Linked DNA regions of Homo sapiens: region 1 is linked to region 2. A link means that fine-mapping ties the variant in region 2 to the expression of a gene that starts in the linked region. Tissue or cell type: whole blood. Region 2 holds a variant in brackets; the other region holds the start of a gene. All regions are shown on one strand. Distances are from middle to middle.

Evidence for each region. PIP is the estimated chance that this variant, and not a neighbour inherited with it, causes the effect.
Region 1: it holds the start of CMC2, and the variant in region 2 is fine-mapped to the expression of CMC2 in whole blood (INTERVAL, PIP above 0.99).

The regions. Positions count from the first base shown.
Region 1 is chr16:81,004,773-81,011,024 of GRCh38, forward strand. CMC2 (C-X9-C motif containing 2) reads right to left here and starts at 2,113. Exons shown (of 4, transcript NM_020188.5): 1 at 1,962-2,113. CENPN (centromere protein N) reads left to right here and starts at 2,442. Exons shown (of 11, transcript NM_001100624.3): 1 at 2,442-2,505. RefSeq lists a silencer at 1,851-2,220 and enhancers at 2,391-2,500, 2,811-2,950.
Region 2 is chr16:80,980,366-80,988,150 of GRCh38, forward strand. It overlaps CMC2 (C-X9-C motif containing 2), which reads right to left. Exons shown (of 4, transcript NM_020188.5): 3 at 1,441-1,512. Among named protein-coding and RNA genes, the nearest start is that of CMC2, 23 kb to the right of the region's middle. The variant G/A (reference allele first, on the strand shown) is at 4,308.

The DNA.
Region 1 (6,252 bases), 24 kb after region 2:
GAGGTACAATTTTCCTCAAGAGTAGTCTAAGACAGATTTCAACCACCAGGTGGCACAATTTTAGAAAATAAACCAAGAGCCAGCGCTGTATTAACTCTAGTATAAAGAAAACGGGTAAGCATTCTAATAACTCACTTCAGCAAATCTATAATCACAAGGAAGAACCCTGTATTTTAATGCCAGTTGGCTTTTCTTTAGAAAGATTTTCCTATTGTGCGGCTGCACAGGAAATTTACACTACAGTTGTAATTTCTAATGCTACTGCAAAATAAGCAAAAAACAAGGCCAGAAAAGTCTGTTGTGCAGAGTCTGAAGAAACTGTTCTCCAGAAAAAAAAACTGTAAACACTCCGCTTTCTAAAATATATCTTTTTAGGCTAGGCGCGGTGGCTCACGCCTGTAATCCCACCACTTCGGGAGGCCGAGGCAGGCAGATCACTTGAGGTCAGGACAAGCCTGGCCAACATGGTGAATCCCCGTCTCTACTAAAAATACAAAAATTAGCCAGGCGTGGCCTGTAACCCTAGCTACTCAGGAGGTTGAGGCACGAGAATCACTAGAACTCGGGAGGTGGAGGTTGCAGTGAGCCGAGATCGCGCCACTGCACTCCAGCCTGGGCGACAAAACAAGACGCCGTCTCAAAATAAAATTTAAATATATATATATATAAATAAATAACATAAAACATTTTTAAGGCCTACATTTCGGCCCTGGTATTAAAGAATTATTTTTCAACTTTTCAAGCTATGAGCCATACTGCAGCAGAGGTCGCAGACACGGTCGGGGACGGCCTCCCCTGCCCACTTCCACTTATCACAGGACCAGTTCTAAACCGATACCACTAAGAAAGCGACTGGCGCTGGCACTGTAGACCCCATGCCAGGCTGCTTCTGGGAGGGACCCGGGGGTGCTGCCTAGGGAGAAGGGCTTAACTACTCTGACTTCCACCGAAGAGTTTCTCAGAGAATGCGCCCTCGCAGCTTTCCCTGAATAAACATTACCAGGACTTACAAGGTGCCTAGCACTCTGCCAGAATCATGTGAATTTCAGAGGAAAATACTCGTTCACACATCTCAAGGAACGCACAGGCTCGTGAGGGAGCATTCTTGCCAATGCACATGGTAAATGCCCAATCGATGTTCGCGGAATGTCAGAAACTGACAACTAGTTCAGGCCTCAACGCAGTAGGAAAAGGATGAAAAAGAAACTCATTTTAAATCAACTAAACAAGTGCAAAAGCCATACATATAAAGGAGAGGAGATACGAATGGCATCACAACATAATTCCTTTGCCATCGAAAACTTCCATGCCTTTGAGGTTTTAAATGAAGACTTCCAAAACTGATTTACTTAAGACTCTACGTAAAACGCCTGATCTTTAAACGCAAGAAAAGCAAGATGAATGTATTACTTTCCTGGAAAAAAAAAGCATTAAAGGAGAAAAAAGAGTAAAGTGTACTGATGGGGCTCTTGGTGGGTTCTCACATCACAGGGCACTGCAGCTGAGACTTGCTTGAACGGCCCCCGTTTTCTACCCGCAAATTCTCAATTGCTAGATAAACAACAATAACAACACTTTATTGGGCGCTCATCGTGTCAAACCCTGTGTTGAGGGCTCCATTCCTCAAGGTCCATTTTACCGGCGAGGAAGCCCCGGCTCCGGGAGGGGAGGAGCGCGCCCAAGGTCACCAGCCAGTTGAGTGAGTGGCGGGCGGATCCCAACCCCGAGCGACGCCCACGGCCTGTCTCGGCCACCAGCGTGTTCCAGCGAGCGCCCAGCCACCTCGCTCGCAGCCTCCCCAGCGCAGCAGCCCGGCTGTGGGCCTGCGGCAGCCGGGTCTTCCTGGTCCCCACCTCCTGGGGCCGACGGGCGGCAGGAAGGGGCTCGGCGGGACGCGCCATCAGGGACCTGAGGAGGAACAACGGAACGCGTTCGGAACGGCCTGGACTCCCGAGACTCACCCGACTCGTGGCCACACCGGGAGAACTGAAGCGGCAGTAGCCGGCGGAGACGCCCGACCCGAAGGCCGGCTGCTAGGGAGCAGACAGCTGAACCGCTTGCCAGACGCCGAAACCCAGTGACGCCCTCCACCGCTCCACCGTGCTCCCGGCTCCTCGCCCCCGCCGCCCGCGGGCCCCAAGGCGCATGCGCCGCCTGTCCTGGAGGGGCCCATTTCCGTCCGTCGTGGGGGGAGGCACAGTGAGTCCACTGGGGCACGGCAGCGTCTAAGCCACAAGCCGAGCACATAAGCCAGGTCCTAACGGAGCCTATGTGTAAGTCCACTACTGGTGCAAGGTTGCACACTTCTAAGAAGAGCGGCGTGGGGGGCTCGGCGACCTTCGCTTCAGTCGCTCCCCCGTGCAGTCCCCTGTGCCCAAGACACAGCCTGATGCTTGTGCTCCGGTGGGCGGAGCTTGGAGGCGGCGGGAACTGCAATTGGTGGCTTTGAAGGCGCGGCGAGCGGGAACAGCTCTTGAGGAGTGAGACTGCAGGAGATGTGGGCCGGTAAGAGAGCCCCGGGCGGCACTGGATCGGGCCCCGGAGGGTGTGGGGCCTTGAGGAAGCCAGATCCCAGGCCTCGGGGGTGGCTTTTTCGCAATTGTCGCACGTTGTGAGGCGCAGGATTGGCGCTGGGTCTCGGGCTCGGGGCGAGGAACTACGGTTCGGGCCGAGGTGAGGGGGCGGTGGCGCTGTGCCGGCTGTGACGTCACCTCGCCCGCGGTGGGGCGGGTGGAGCCTTTCGTAGGCTCGCGACTGCGTCAGGGGAGGGCCGTGTGGTCATGTGACCAGGGGCTCCGCTCTACGATCCTGGGGTTGCTTCCTTTCCCAGAGTTGGGGTTTTGCTTTTCTGTCACCTCGGCTTCCGTCGTTTTTTGTCCCTGTACCCTCTTGCGTTGCTCCTCGCATTGCCTGTTGGAGCGCAGCAGAGGTGTGTGGCTACGGGAACGTTACTTAAAATGGATCTTTTTGATCATGCGTTCCACAGATCTTGAGCATCTACTGTATGTCAGACACTAAAACGCTAGGAAGTATAAAGAAAGTTTTAAAATGGGGCCAGGCGCGGTAGTTTACGCCTGTAATCCCAACACTTTGGGAGACCGACGTGGGCGGATCACCTTAGGTCAGGAGTTCGAGACCAGCCTGGCCAACATGGTGAAACCCCGTCTCTACTAAAAATACAAAAATTAACCGGACGTGGTATCGGGTGCCTGTAATCCCAGCTATTTGGGAGGCTGAGGCAGGAGAAGCGCATGAACCCGGGAGGCGGAGGTTGCAGTGACCCGAGATCGCGCCACTGCACTGCACCCTGGGCGACAAAGCGAGACTGTGTCTCCGAAACAACAAAAAAAGGAAAGTTTAAAAATGGTCACGGGGTAAACGTTTACTAAAGGGATTTCCGTCTTAATTGGTGAGACTGAGGGCGCTCTACCAAATTTCTTTAGACTGGCGTTCTGCAAACTTTACCCGGAATAAATCATCTGACGTACTTTTTAAAAGATGCTAAATCTCAAGCCCTCCGTGCGCCCTCCTCACAGTTTAATTTGATAGGGCCCAGGAATCTTCATTTTAACGGGTAGCCTCGTCTGTGGGTTTTTTTGTTTGTTTTTTGTTTTTTTGAGACGGAGTCTTGCTTTGTCGCCCATGTTGGAGGGCAGTGGCACGTTCTCGGCTCACTGCAACCTCCTCCTCCCGGATTCAGGCTGTTCTCTTGCCTCAGCCTCCCGAGTAGCTGGGACTAGAGGTGTGCGTCACGACACCCGGCTAATTTTTGTATTTCTAGTAGAGACGGAGTTTCACCATGTTGGCCTGGGTGGTCTTGAACGACTGACCTCAAGTGATACACCACGCCCGGCGCGCTCCCGGCCCCTCGCCCGTGTTCTTAATGGGAGAGGTGTTGATTTGATGTTTCACTGACTGTTGAACCCCAAACCACCCAGGTTGTCTCCTCAGGCATTCATTCCACAAGTATTTATCAAAGACACATTAGACTGTTCTTGGCCTGATTAGACTTACTGACTATAGTGAGGCAGTTCTGGTCTAGGAGTATAGCTGTGAATAAAAACATCGTCCTGCCCTGGAGCTCAATTTTAGAAACAAGAAAAGTTAAAAAGATAATTTCAGATAGTTCTGTAAAGACAATTAGCAGTGGATGGCCTGGTGCAGAGGCTCACGCCTGTAATCCCAGTACTTTGGGAGGCCGAGGCGGGAGGATCACTTGAGCTTGGGAGTTCAAGACCAGCCTGACCAACATGGTGAAACCCCATCTTTACTAAAAGTAGAAAAATTAGTTGGGTGTCATGGTGCACACCTGTAATCCCAGATACTCGGGAGGCTGAGGCAGGAGAATCATTTGAATCTGGGAGGCAGAGGCTGCAGGAGGCTGCAGTGAGCAGAAATCCCACTACTACACTCTAATGTGGGTGACCCAGCAAGATTCCGTCTAAAAAAAAGGAAAAAAACAATTAGCAGTGGAGAGTGGGGAAGTAACTTTTGGTTGGGTGGTCAGGATAAGTCTGAGGAGAAACCATCTAAGCTAACACCAGAATTGCAAGAAGTCACTGGAGAGAACATGTGCAGGAAGAACCTTCTAGGCAGTTGTAACTGCAGGCACAATGGTCCTTCTCTAGAGATTATTTAAGAGACTAGTGTAGTTGGAGCTCAGAAAACCAAGGAGAGGGAAGCAGGGGCCACGCAACACGGGGCCTTGTAGACCATGGTGAAGGCTTTAGATGGTCCAGTAACTACACAAAGAAACAAATCCGACTCCTGTTTCATGATCCTGATTCTGTTCCTACGACCTTAATTCAGTTATTTTTCTATTTCTAAATGACTCCTAATCCTTCCTCTTTATCTTTGTCTTACTATCATTTTCAGTATATTGTTAAAATACAGTCAACTATTTCTTTTCAGAAGTGGACAAGGATAATTTTTCAGTGTTCAACAAATAAGTCACAGCCAGGACTCTTGTAGGAAGATACTTCTTTGTCCCTGGAATTCCCACAGTTGTGAAGGAAACAGATGACTGACAGGCTTGTCTTAAACACAGATGCCAAGGTCTGTGTGTGCCTTCCTAGAAGACACACTGTTAAGGGACATTAAAGTATGCGGGTGGTACCCTGCATTGTATAAAAATCATGTTTGCAGACCACGCGCGGTGGCTCACACCTGTAATCCCAGCACTTCAGGAGGCCGAGGAGGGCAGATCACTTGAGGTCAGGAGTTCGAGACCAGCCTGGGCAACATGGTGAAACCATGTCTCTACTAAAGATACAAAAATTAGCCAGGCGTGGTGGTGCACGCCTGCAGTCCTAGCTACCTGGGAGGCTGAGGCAGGAGAATCACTTGAACCAGGCAGGGGAGGTTGCAGTGAGCCGAGGTTGCACCACTGCACTCCAGCCCGGGCGACAGAGTGAGACTCTATCTCAAATGAAAAAAATAAATAAATATCATGTTTGCTTGCTTTTTTGTTCTGTATTTGAAGAGAGAGAGAGAGATGCTCACTGGTGTCCCCAAATAAAGTAGCAGACGTGAGATCAGCTGTCACCATTGGCTCACAACTTCTGCCAAAGGAAAATGATAAAAGAGCTCAGAATCTTCCTTCCTTATTCCTGCAGCCGCTAGGTCATTCTTCTGGAGATTATATCCCTTGCCTATTGATAAGGGAGGCACACCAGATTTGGGGCTCAGGACCTTATAGACAATTAAGGAATCTCACCCTCAGGCATGGGCAGGAGAAGTGAGGGAGGAAAGAGCTCTTTGTTCACAGGCGGTGCATTAAAGGACTAAGAGACAGCAATCCACTGCACCACTAGCTCTTAGCATGTCCTGTGGAGTCACAGATCCAGCTGTTTATTCGGTATCTCCATTTGGACTCTCATCTTTATCTTAATATTAACAGATTCAGAACAGAATTACAGAATTCTTGAGCTTTCTCCTGCCTCTCTCGCAGTCTTGGCCGTCTCAGCTAATAGTAACTTTGTCTTTTAGTTCCCTGGTAAAAACCTTGGTTTCATCTTTGGTTCTTTTCTTGATCTAACACCCCACATGTAATCCATCTGGAAACCCCGTGAGTTCCCTCTTAAAAGTGTATCCAGAACCTGACCTCTTCCCCTGCCTCACTAACCTCCAACCTCTGCCCTCGCCTCCTTACACTGCGTTCTCAGTACAGTAGCGAGATTGATCCTGGTAGAAAAGCTAAACAAGAGCATGTCCTGCCTGTGCTCAGCACCTTGCAGAGTGAAAACAGCAGTG
Region 2 (7,785 bases):
GGTGGGAGGACTCACCCTAGGTGTATTTTTCATGTAAACTGGCTTTTTCATATAAAGGACAAACATTTTTAGTAAATAATTTAAAAACACTAATAAGGCTGGGAATGGTGACTCATGTCTGTAGTCCCAGCACTTTGGGAGGCCAAGGTGGGAGGACTCACCCTAGGTGTATTTTTCATGTAAACTGGCTTTTTCATATAAAGGACAAACATTTTTAGTAAATAATTTAAAAACACTAATAAGGCTGGGAATGGTGACTCATGTCTGTAGTCCCAGCACTTTGGGAGGCCAAGGTGGGAGGACTGCTTGAGGTTAGCAGTTTGAGACCAGCCTGGCCAAAACAGTGAGACTCTCATCTCTACAAAAAAATGTGTAAAACCTTAACCAGGCATGGTGGTACGCACCTGTCGTCCTAGCTACTCAGGAGGCTGAGGTGGGAGGATCACTTGAGTTTGAGGCTTCCGTGAGTTACGATCACCCTACTGCACTCCAGCTTAGGTGACAGAGCAAGAACCTGTCTCAAAAGAAAAAAGAAAAAAAGAAACAAACTATTACTCTTCACTGAGTACTCCAAAAAGTTCTTCAAACAGTAAAGGTGAATGTCACAATTTAAAGGGAATCCAGGAAGGGAAAAACAGCCTAAGCAGAAAACAAAATCAAAAGAAAGATGTTGGACAACTTCAAATATTATATTTAAATCTTTCAATATGAGGCAAAAAAAAAAAAAAGTTCAAAAATAACAAAAATGATATCTGAAAGGCAAAATTTTAGCCATCATATATTTTTAAAAGTTCTGGACACAAAAAATCTGATGTATGAAACAGAAATTGAATCAAATTTCTTTTCAAAGGTTTAAAATGCACTCTGCTTATTTGGCAGTGCCTGGAAAAAGACAATGAACTGTGTACTGTGGCTATTTGCCCAAGTCCAAGTTGTGCCCTAAAATCAAGTTCAGGAGATGACAGTGTTCCAAAACAAGTCAAATTAGATCCCTGTGGCTTACACAAACCATAACTACAAAGAAATTCAAAATGTTAAAGCTGAAAACAGCCTAATTCTAGCCTCCTCAATTTATATATAGAAATTGAGGCCCTGAGAGTTTTAGTTACCTACCAATCAGCTAATAGGTGACTGATATAAGTCTTTCTGCCGGCCAGAGATACAACTTCCTAAACCATTAAATTCATCCAGATGACCTACAGTAATCATCATAAGGAAGTTGTTTTCCTCATTTGTGTTCATGGCCAAAAAGCCATGTTCTAAAACTGTCCCCAGAAAAGCTTTCATTTCTTCCCCTAAACAGAGGAAGTTCATACATGTAAAGTCAATTTTCTGTTACACTAAAATGTGGGAAAAATTCAATAATGGCAGTAATACACAATATTCAAAAATGTTCTGTTCTATTGTTCAACCATATCCATCCTTTGACACTTTTCTTACCTCATTCTTCAGGCATTTTCTCAACTCCCGATCAACATCATTACAATAACCAAAAAATTTCAGAATGTTGTGCTAAAAGGAAGAAAAGGAGTAAAATATTTCATCCCATAATATGCCAAGGTTTGGGGCACATAAAATTTAAATACTGCCACAGACATGAGTTTACAGTGTCACTTTGTTAATAAACAAGTAATAGTTAAATCACATGTATAAAACACAGTTGGCCCTTGAACAACATGGATTTGAACTGCATGAGTCCACTTATACCTGGATTTTCTTTCAATAAATATATTGAAAACATTTTTGAACATTTGGAACAATTAAAAAAAACCTCACAGATGAACTACCATAGCCTAGAAATATCAAAAAAATTTAAGAGAAAGATACGGCATAAATGTGTAAAACATGTAAATACTGGCCGGGCACGGTAGCTCACAACTGTAAATTCCAGCACTTTGGGAGGCCAAGACGGGTGGGTGGATCACGAGGTCAGGCGTCAAGATCGGCCTGGCCAAAATGGTGAAACCTCATCTCTACTAAAAGTACACAAAAAATTAGCCAGGCGTGGTGGTGGGCGCCTGTAATCTCAGCTACTTGGGAGGCTGAGGCAGGAGAACTGCTTAAACCCAGGAGGCGGAGGATGTAGTGAGTCGAGATCGCGCCCCTGCACTACTCCAGCCTGGGCGACGGAGTGAAACTCCGTCTCAGGAAAAAAAAAAAAAAAAAAAAAAAAAGTGAATACTAGTCTATTTTGTCATTTACTACCATAAAACATATACAAATTTTAAAAAGATAAAATTTATCAAAACTAACACACACACAGAACATAAATAGCATCATTCAAATTTGAGAGAATTGTAAGCAAACATAAAGATATATCAAATCACAACTACATAAAATTAACTGCGGTATATACTGTACTGCCGTAATAATTCTGAAGTCACCTCCTATTGCTATTACACTGGGCTCAGACACTACAATTATCCACTTATAACACCCTGTGATACCAATAACATACACAGTAAGCAAGTCATGTTTACTGTAATAACCATAAAACTTGAATAACACCATGGGACCCATACGAAGTGCCACTAGTAATGCTGGAAGTGCTCCCAAGAAGCAGAGAAAAGTAATGACATTACAGGAAAAAGTTGAACTACTTGAAATGTACTGTAGATTGAGGTCTGCAGCTGTGGTTACCTACCATTTCGGACTGACATACATCATCTTGTAAACAGATGATGTAAACTTACAATATCAATAAATACAATACCATACCATAAATGTATTTTCTCTTCCTTATTTTTTCTCTAGCCTACTTTATTGCATGAATACAATATATAATACATATAACATACAAAACATGTGTTAATCACCTATTTATGCTATCAGTAAGGCTTTCAGACAACAGGAAACTCTCAGACAAGTTTTTGGGGAGTCAAAAAGTTATATGTGGACTTTCAACTGCATGGGGGTCAGTGCCCCGAACTTCCAAGCTGTTCAAGGATCAACTATACAAATGAACAAATTATCCTGGTTCTTCTTACAAAGAAGGAATAAATGTTCTGCAAGTAGAAACAAAGATTTAAAGACTTTTTCTTAATGATAGGGAAGCCTACTTACTAACTCACCAAAACCTCACAAAGACAGTATAAAAGTTTTATCATAACCTAACACCCTTTTCTTAAGGGAAATGTTAAAATCACAGCACAATCCATTCTCTATTACAGGGAGTGGTGTCAAGCTGCAGCATGGCCACACTGCCATGGGCAGAGTAACTTCACTACCAAACACTGTCCTGTAAAAGAGTTATCTAATAAATGCTTAGTGCCAGAGCCCTTTTCTCATTTGCCCCCATTCAAAATGTCACCAAAATACATCAAATAAGTAACACAGATGCGCGCAGTGGCTCACGCCTATAATCTCAGCACTTTGGGAGGCCAAGGTGGGCGGATCACCTCAGGTCAGGAGCTTGAGACCAGCCTGACCGACATGGAGAAATCCCATCTCTACTAAAAATACAAAATTAGCCAGGCATGGTGGCATATGCCTGTAATCCCAACTACTCTGGAGGCTGAGGCAGGAGAACTGCTTGAACCTGGGAGGTGGAGGTTGCGGTGAGCTGAGATCGCACCATTGCACTCCAGCCTGGGCAACAAGAGCGAAACTCCATCTCAAAAAAAAAAAGAAAAAAAAACCCACTATCATTAGATGCCCTATAAAGGTCATATAAATAAGCCACTAATTTACAATATAAGGAAATCTGCCTGAAGTTCAGTCTGATTTAAAAAATAAAATAACATCTCCTAGTTGTTTCTAGTCCTATGAGTATTATCGTGGCAAAAAGTATGCGTGCTCTAAAGCAGGTTAAGCTGAAGCCTGAAGTTAAGAACCTGAATTTCAGTAGGAACATAATTAGTGTGTTTGCACTTCACGATTTTCAAGGGTGGGTCAGACAGCATGGTGATCTGTTTTATAATGACAGGTCATAAATGCTGAACTTGGTAGTTGTAATAATAAGCACATCTTTTCCTTTTCGTTCTAATTAAGGCTTTCATGGAAACCAGACAACACATAATTAATAAGCTATGCCTCATGCTATTTCTTTTTTTCCTGCTTCACCACCATTTTAAACGTACGTTTCAATTCCACACTGAATAAGTGGTCAGTTTTTCCAGAAAGCATTTAACATAGACTAAAGTCTCCTATTTGTTACCTAATGACCTTTCCAGAATAAATTTTTTAATTAAAAAAACTTTTTGTACTTAATTTTTATTTTACTTTTTTCTTTCCTCTATCATTCCCAAAGAATAAATATTTCCTGTGTATTTTACTATACTACTACTTCCTTGACAACAAATAAACAT[G/A]ACAATGCATTTTCATGCCTTCAAGTCAAGTAGACTTTTCAAATGTGAGGCAATATTACATAGTTGACATTTATTCATATCATTCCACATATGTACATCTTAATTCAAAAATCCATGACAAAAACTAATTTATATGCTTCCTTTTACCTCAATATTAACTAAGGTAAAATGAGAATTATACTCTTGTGATGTTACATGAAAAATATTAGACCCAAGTGCCCCAGAGAAATTGGTAGAAGAAATGCCCACAGGCTACAATTTTCTTATACTTACATGGACTGAGTCTCTAGTGCCTGGTGTCAATTTCTTGAGAACCAAACCAACCGAGTAACTGATTGAATAAGTGAATCAACAGATATCTGCGAACCTTTTACATAAAGAACAATGTCCCAGGTACCAGGGACACAGAAGTGAGCAAGGTGGATCTGGGTCCTACTCTCACAGTACATAGTCAGAGGGAAAGAGGCAAATAAGAAGTCACTGCCATAAAGCAGTGGTTCTCAAAGTGCAGTCCAGAGACACCGAGGGGTTCCTGAGACCTTTTCAGGGAAGGTACAAGGTCAAAACTATCTTCTCAATAATACAAAAACATTTGTTTTGTTCATTTTCATCCTCCCACAAGGGTATAGCGGAGTTTTCCCGGGGCTACATGAAGTCTAACATCACAACAGATTGAATGTAGAGGCAGACATGAGAATTCAGGTATATTTTATTAATTCAGACATTTAAAAAATGAAAAGCAATGCAATTCTTTTCGCTTTTTTCTGGTTTGAAAAATAAGATTTTCGTGAAAAATAACTATGCTAACATGTCATCTTAACATGTAAAATTATAATTTATCATTGTAATTTTAAAATAATTTTTTCTTCATTTCTCAGCCTTCATTTCTAATCCAATAAATATTGTAGATATCACCCACATAAACAATAGCTCCCTAGAATCCTAAATAATGTTAAAAGAGTGCAAAAGAGTCCTGAGACCAAAAAGTGTGAGAACTGCCACGAAGGAGAAAAGCTGTTATGTATGATGCTACTCAAACAGAGTGACTGCACCAGGAGAATCTAGGCCAGGAAAGGGAAAAGGAAACGACCAACTAAGCTGAAGAAAACCTGAAGGATGATAAGACCTGGTTTAGCAAACAGTAAGTGGAGCCAGGAGGAATGCACTAAGCTCAGCAAAGGAAAAATCAAGGCTTGGAAGACAGAAATATCATTCTCCCATATACCTGCAAAAAAAAAAAAAAAAACCACAGGAATGAAGGGGAAGGAGCTGTGGGAGAGTGGTGAAGACTAACAGCTACTCAAGGATGAGTTTCATTAAGGACTTGAAACACAAGGCAAGACATTTATAACGCATTGTATAGGCAAAAGGATCTATTAAAAAGGTGACAATGAGCCAGGTGCGGTGGCTCATGCCTGTAATTCCAGCACTTTGGGAGGCCCAGGCGGGCGGATCACCTGAGGTCAGGAGTTTGAGGCCAGCCTGGGCTAACATGGTGAAACCCCATCTCTACTAAAAATACAAAAATTAGCCAGGCATAATGGCCTGGTACCTGTAATCCCAGCTACTCGTGAGGCTGAGGCAGGAGAATCGCTTGAACCGGAGAGACGGAAGTTGTAGTGAGCCAAGATCATGCCACTACACTCCAGCCTGGGCGACAGAGAGAAACTCTGCCTCAAAACTAACTAAATAAATAAATAAAATGCAGATTCCTAACAGCTACAGTGAGCTGAGATTGTACCACTGCACTCCAGCCTGGGCGACAGAGTGAAACTCCGTCTCAAAAGAAAAAAAAAAAGGTAACAATGATTAAACTTATTTTTGAAAGATCACTCTAAATCCAGGGTGGAAAATTGATTTAAACAAAAAAGAAAACAAAACCGCCAGGAGACCAGATAGAAGTCCTTTACAGGTGGCCCCAATAAAAGTGTTGCCATGGACTATGGCAGTGGCACTGGCAAAGGAGAACAATGGTTCAAGAGAGATTCGGCAGAGAACACACAGCCCTGGTAAGGACTCACAGGAAGAGGTGAGGCAGATGGAGGAATTAAAGATGACACTGGCTTTCAGCCAAGAATGACAGTGGAAGTTTTAAAAAGAGATAAGATAAATTTGTATCTGGACATGTTGAGTTTATTGGTGGAACAGTTAAGTCCACTATCTAGCTGAGATAAACCTGGAACTCAGAGAAAATCTGAGCCAGAGATACAGATTTGGGAGTTACTGAAACCAGGAAAGCGAATGATTTTTTGCAGGAAGGTGTAGCCTAGGGTATCCTGAAGAGTGGCCAAAAAAACTTAAGGAAAACCAGGGAAGAGAAAGTTATGGTAGAAGCCTGTGGAAGAGTGTTTTGAGAGGGAATCAATTGCTGCTGGGAGAAAAGTGAGGTAACTACTGAAAACATCCACCAAATTTGCCAGTAGTGCAGTCATTAGTGATCTTGAAAGTTTTGGGACCCTAGTGAGGGTAGAAGCCAACCTGAAAGAAGAAAGCAGTATTCTTTCAATAGCTCTGAAAGGGACGCTAACACAAGATACCAGAAGGCTGGGATTATGGGAAGGAATCTTATGTATTTATTTTCTCACGATGGAAAAAAAGTGGGCATTTCAAAATGCTAATAAGAAGAAGAGAAAAAGGGAAAATACAAAAATTTTTAAATGGTGGAAAAACCCAGTACTTAGTGAGTTTATCTCTGGATGGTTGAACAAAAGGTAATTTTTGTTTGCTTTATACTTTCCTACTTTTTTAACACTATCTAAAATGATATGTATTATTTACATATTACTTTTATAAATCAGAAAAAATACACAAGGATTTCCAAGTAGCTTTGACGAAATAAGCTGTTCTAAATTCTGTATTTTACCTTCAGATGCAAAGAATATCTAAGTCTTGCTGACAAATTTAGGCAAAATAGGCCAGTAGATCAGAAGCCACCCACAGACACCTGAAAGCTGTGGAAATAACACTTGCCTGCAAAGATCACAGCAGAACTATAAAAGCACGGAAAGAATGATAAAAGCACAGCAAGGTAGGCTATTTGGAGATAAAACACTCATGCACTTCAAGCAGGTTGGAGAGCACTGCAGCATTCCAGCACAGACAGGGGTATTCAGGAAGACTAATCAACAAAAAAGACTAAAACAGAATTACACAAACTCAGGGCTAGAAGACATCTTAGGTAATATAATTCACTCGATTTATTAATTAAATAACTGGGATCAGGCCAGGCACAGTGGCTCATGCCTGTAATCCCAGCACTTTGGGAGGCCAAGGTAGGAGGACAGCTTGAAGCCAGGAGTTTGAGATGAGCCTGGGCAACACAGGAGAGCCTGTCTCTAGGAGGAAAAAAAAAAAAAATTGAATTAGCCAGGCATGATGGCACACACCTGTACTCCCATCTGCTCAGGAGGATGAGGCAGAAGGATCACTTGAGCCCAGGAGTTCAAGGCTGCTGTGAACTTTGATTGTGCCACCGCAC